2 separate regions of the Homo sapiens genome follow, and region 1 is linked to region 2. A link means that fine-mapping ties the variant in region 2 to the expression of a gene that starts in the linked region. Tissue or cell type: iPS cells. Region 2 holds a variant in brackets; the other region holds the start of a gene. All regions are shown on one strand. Distances are between the middles of the regions.

What was found. PIP is the estimated chance that this variant, and not a neighbour inherited with it, causes the effect.
Region 1: BEND7 starts here. The variant in region 2 is fine-mapped to the expression of BEND7 in iPS cells (HipSci, PIP 0.95).

Annotation. Positions count from the first base shown.
Region 1 is chr10:13,527,901-13,530,582 of GRCh38, forward strand. BEND7 (BEN domain containing 7) reads right to left here and starts at 1,114. Exons shown (of 9, transcript NM_001369863.1): 1 at 573-1,114. The coding sequence starts at 633. BEND7-DT (BEND7 divergent transcript) reads left to right here and starts at 704. Exons shown (of 2, transcript XR_930674.3): 1 at 704-752; 2 at 2,120-2,364.
Region 2 is chr10:13,351,391-13,354,072 of GRCh38, forward strand. No RefSeq gene overlaps it. Among named protein-coding and RNA genes, the nearest start is that of SEPHS1, 4.4 kb to the left of the region's middle. The variant G/A (reference allele first, on the strand shown) is at 1,335.

The DNA of each region.
Region 1 (2,682 bases), 180 kb after region 2:
TTTAAAGGATGCTTATCTGACTGCTATATGATCTAGTCTAAAACACCTTTCCAACCCAAATCAGCTAGCTAGAGATGTTGGATGTCAACAATTCCGCCTTGGGCTTGGACACGGCGTGAGCTTCTTTCTCCTTCTTAAAAAGAACAACAACGGTCATCCTTTTTCCTCCTTCTCTTGGCGGGGGGAAGGGGGAAGACCCCAGAAAACAAAAACAGCAAATCTCAGGTCCGAGGGTCCACGCTCGGCCTGATGGCCAGGCAGGTCCGCGGCCGCCCCAGCCCTGCCCCGGAGGCGCCCCGAGGAGGGCTCGGGCCCCCCGGTGTCATTGTTTGCTAATTTCCTGAGCTGCCCTCCGACTTGTTTACGTTAAATAACATCCCTGCTCCCCCCGCACAACTTTCCCCGCCGCCCGGCGTGTGCGGCCGCGGCCCTGCCTGCCAGCCCGGCGGAGGCACCGGGGGACCGGGAAGGACCGGGGGCTCCGGGAGGGCGCGCCCCCCAGCGTGGACCCCCGCGGGCGGCCGAGGGCGCGGCGCCCGCTGCCTGCCCCCGCCGCCCCGGCGGCCGCTTACCTCGGCTCACCAGTTTGAAGCTCTGGGATTTCCTGCTTCTTTTCCTCTCGGAGAACTCCATGGTGCGGGGAAGGCGGCGGCGGGGGCTGAGGAGGCGGCGGCAGCGGCGGCAGCGGCAGCGGCGGCAGCGGCAGCGGCGGCGCGGGCTCGTGTCACCGCGGCGGAGCCGCCGGGACCAAGGTCCGCGCCTGGAGTCGGCGAGGGGAGGCCGCGGGACGGGAGGAACCACCGCGAGCCGGCTCGGGGCTGCAGGCGCGGGGCCCGGCGGCGTGGGCTCCCGGGCGAAGTTGCCCCCGCGCGGCGCCGCCTCCCGGTGCCCTAGGCGCCCCCGCGGCCCCCGCTCATGCCGGCCCGCGGGTTCCAGACGCCGCCCGCCGCAGCCCAACTTTCCGTTGGGAGCGGGCCGGGCCGGGGCGCGGCGGCGGCGGCGGAGGCGGGGGGCGGCTCGGGGCGGCCGGCCCGCCTGGGCTCAGCCTGCGGTCGCGGCGGCGGCGGCGGCGGCCCCGAAGACGCGGCGGGCGGGCTGCGGGGAGGGCGGCGGCGGGTGCAGAGCCGGCCGGGGCGCTGACCGCCCCCGCGGGAGGAGGGGCGCCGGCGGAGGGGGCGGTGCCGCTGGGACCCCAGGGCCACCTGCTGGCGGAGCCCGGCCGCCGCCATCCCCGGGGGCCGCCGCCGGCCTGGCCGCGCGGCGCCCCGAGGAGGCGCGGAGGCCGCGGCGCAGCGCCCTGGCCCGGGCCCGGCCGGCCTGCCTGCCCCCGGGGACGACGCCGCCGCCCGGGCCTCCGCTCGCAGACCCCGCTCGCTGGCCTCCCTCCGCCGCTTGCTGGGCCGAGCTAACTCCGTGCACCTCGCCGTGGGGGCGCGGACCGCCCCGACAACCACCTCCCCGCCCTCACATCCCGGGCGCCCCGGGGCCCGACGCGCTGATTTTAAGCAAGTTTTAGGGGGAAAAAACTTACCCATTTGCGCTCTCTCTAGAAGGACAGAGAGGAGGTTTTAGAATATTGTGGAGAAGAATATAGTAGAGAGCTCCCATTCCCTAACCCAGGCTGGGCGGATTGTGGAAAGAGCCGAGTCACATTCAAGGAGAGCACTTGGAATGGGGGGCTTGGTGGCCCTGGGGACTCTCAGGAGGCCATGGTCAAGGCAGGTGCAGGGCACTATGCTTCTCCACGTCATATGTCGGAATCATGGACCCAAACACAAAGCGCTTAGTAGTTATGTGTAATATTCTTTTCGGGGGATCAGAGAGCGCACTTCAGGCACCATTTCTTTCTCACATCTTTCGAGTGGGCCAGGAAAAGAATTTCACACTACCTGGGAATGGTAGGACAGGAACATGACGGGACATGCGTGAAAGTATCTGCCAAACCCAACCAGGAAGAGGGTAAAGAGTCGGGGGATGGGGGGGCTACCTCTCCGGCACGGGACAAAGGCCAGTGGCCCCAAAAGAGTAGAGAGGAAAAAGGGGAGGTTGACAAATGTGATGAGTGTCACGTGGGTCTCACCCAAATGAGGCAGCCGCTGAGGAACCGCTCTTATTTCAGGGACACAGAGTAGGACAACTGCCGAGGAAGGGGGACATTGAGGCAGCTTGCAGAAACACACATGGAGAAACAGAACCAAAGAGCAGGGTAACCAGCAAACCAGGCAGTGGAGGCAGGGATGGGTACCCATCCCGAGATCTTGGGTGATACCAAAGGCGGCACATCCGGAAGGCTGGTTATACCTAGCGTGGAGGGGAGAGGGAGAACTGTTTCTTCCGTTCAATAAAGCAAACCCTTCAACAAGAGGTTCTTAACCTTTTTTAGTCACTGTTTCCTTTGAGATTGTGTTCAAAGCTCAAGGGCCCTTTTTCCCAGAAAATATGTATGGGACATATAAAATTTAGTATAGATTTATTGGAGTTCTTAGACGCGCTTTGCTGCTCTCAGAAAATTAGTGGTAACAGTGATTAAAGCAACTACCCTATTTGGGTTTCTTCCTTCCCTGCCACCCCTTTCTTTAAAATCAGGCATTAAAATCTGAAGATGTTTTGGATTTTTTTTTATTTTTTATTTTTTGAGACAGAGTCTCATTCTGTCGCCCAGGATGGAGTGCAGTGGTGCGA
Region 2 (2,682 bases):
TGGAGCAATGCAGCTACAAGCTACAGCGGAGGTTGCCGTCAGCATCAGAAGCTGGGAGAGGCAAGGAGGAATTCTTCCCTAGAGCTTTCAGAGGGAGCGTAGCCCTGCCGACACCTTGGCTTCCCGCTAGCAGCCTCCGGGATTTAAACTACCCAGCTTGCGGTCCTTTGTTATGGCAGCCATGGGAAAAGACTCCAGCAGGTCGGAGGTGTATGTGGTGGGGAAGGGATGTGAAGAATCCCCATTTTGCCAGGCTCCCTGGGTGATTCTGATGCTTTTGAAGAACACTGACCTAAGAATTCCACTTCCTCTGAAACCCAGAGGGACGAGAGGCTGCCTGTTCTATACCCCACATCCTGCTCACCCCAAAACAGAAAAGCAGCTCCAGTGACATCACCTTCCTGTCACCTGCCCTTCTCATTCGGGGCTCATGCCATCCAACACTGCCACCATCTGCTGCCAGAAGTGTCACTCCCCTGCATGGTTTGAATCATGCCCATTCAAAAGTGGCCCCTGCTCTGTCATCCCAGGGGATGGAGAGGGTCCATTCTCAGGAATAGCACCTGCTAGATGATGGATGTGCAAATCTGATGACCTTGACCTTAACTCCACTTTAGACACCCATTGTCTTGGCCGTGCTGTGAACCTTCTCGGCCCTGGAAATCTTTCATTTTTTATTCGTTTAGAGATGAGCTCTCGTTATGTTGCCCAAGGTGGTCTCAAACTTCTGGGCTCAAGCAATCCTCCCACCTCAGCCTCCTGAGTAGCTGGGACTACTACCATGCTTAGCTAACCCTGGAAATCTTAAACACCAACACCCTCTCCCCCGTCCCTGAGTCCTCTCCCTTCTTTACATAGGACACCCACACTCTAACTTCATGGGGGCCACCAGTCTCCTGAAGTGGATCCGTTTCATTCTGTTCAGCTTGGACCGTCTGAGGGTAGTTCTGCAGCCTCATCTCACCTCAACCCATTTCATTGACCATGTTCACCCCCACATGTCCAAACTTAAGCCCCTCTACCTGCCTTCTTTGTCCTTCCACTGGGCTGGAGGAAACTCAGAACTTAGAGATCCTGCCATGATGGGCATGTCAGCCCCCAGTGCCAGCCGGGCTTTTCTGACACCTCAGAAATCATTGAGTATGTTATTCCTGATGTTCATTATTCTCCCCAAGGGCTGGTTCACACTTTGCTGCCTTCAAGAGCAGATGCACCTTACAGAAAAGAATTCATGTCCTCAGGGGAAACCCTGTAATTCCCCCACCCTTCCCTGGCCCCACTAGACTCCTCTGACCTCCAGGGTCAGTGTCTCAGAGACAGGACTGCCCTCTGCC[G/A]GTCCCAGGCTGGTCCCTGCCTGTACCCTGACTTCCACCCCTCCAACAATAGCTAACCTTTGTTGAGGATTCACTACATACCCCACTGCACAGTGTTTTAAAGCACTGCTTTTAGAATTCTCCCCACAGTCCCCTGCGGTAGGTTTTCCTTTCATGGGGATGGGAACCAGGGTTCCGACTAATTAAGTAATTTATCCAAGGTCACTGTCTTAGTTTGGGCTCCCCCAAAGTAGACCTGGAGACAAGGATTAGGGAGAAGGGAGTTAGTTAATTTGGGAGGTGATCCTAGGAAACATAAGTCATGAAGCAGACAGGAGGAAACAGAAAGGAGAAAGCCGGAAGGAATGTTAGAGTGGCCTACCAACCGTGGGCACCTGGGACTCTGCCCTGTTGAGGCTGCTCTGAGAAATGGTACGGACCCCCTAGGGCAGGCAGATGAATGACGAACTCCAGTAGGTCTATGTCCCAAGCCCCAGAGCCTGTGACTATGTCATGTTACAAGGCAAAGAGGAATTTCAGTTGCAGGAATTGAATGTACTGATCAGAGCCAAGTGTTGTAGTTCATGCCTCTAGTCTCAGCTACTCGGGAGGCTGAGGCTGGCAGATTATTGGAGCCTAGGAGTTCAAGGACACAGTGAGGTATGATTGTACCACTGCACTCCAGCCTGGGTGACAGAGACCCTGTCTCTTAAAATAATTAAAGAAAAATTTGCTCATCATTTGAGCTTAAAATAGGGTGGTTATCTTGGATAATCTAGGTGGATCCAAGGTAATCACAAGCCTCCTGAAAAGTGGAAGAGGGAATAGAGAGCTGGAGAGATGGGAGCGTGAGAAAGAATTAGACTGACATTGCTAGCTTTGAAGATGGAGGAAGCGGCCACAAACTGAGGAAAACAGGTGCCCCCTAGAATATGGAAAAGACAAGCAGGTTCTCCTTTAAAGCCTCTGGAAGAGAATACATCTAGCTGATAGCTTGATCTTAGCTTAATGATATCTGTGTCAGACTTCTGGTCCACAGAACTGTCAGATCATAATTCAAGCTGTTATAGGAGAGGGGCCCTGATCCAGACCCCAAGAGAGGAATCTTGGATCTCGCACAAGAAATAATTCAGGGCAAGCTGGGTGCGGTGGCTCACGCCTGTAATCCCGTCGCTTTGGGAGGCCGAGGCGGGTGGATCACCTGAGGTCGGGAGTTCGAGACCCGCTTGACCAACATGGTGAATTCCTGTCTCTACTAAAAATACAAAAATTAGCCAGGCATAGTGGCAGGCGCCTGTAATCCCAGCTACTCGGGAGGCTGAGGGAGGAGAATCGTTTGAATCCAGGAGGTGGAGGTTGCAGTGAGCCG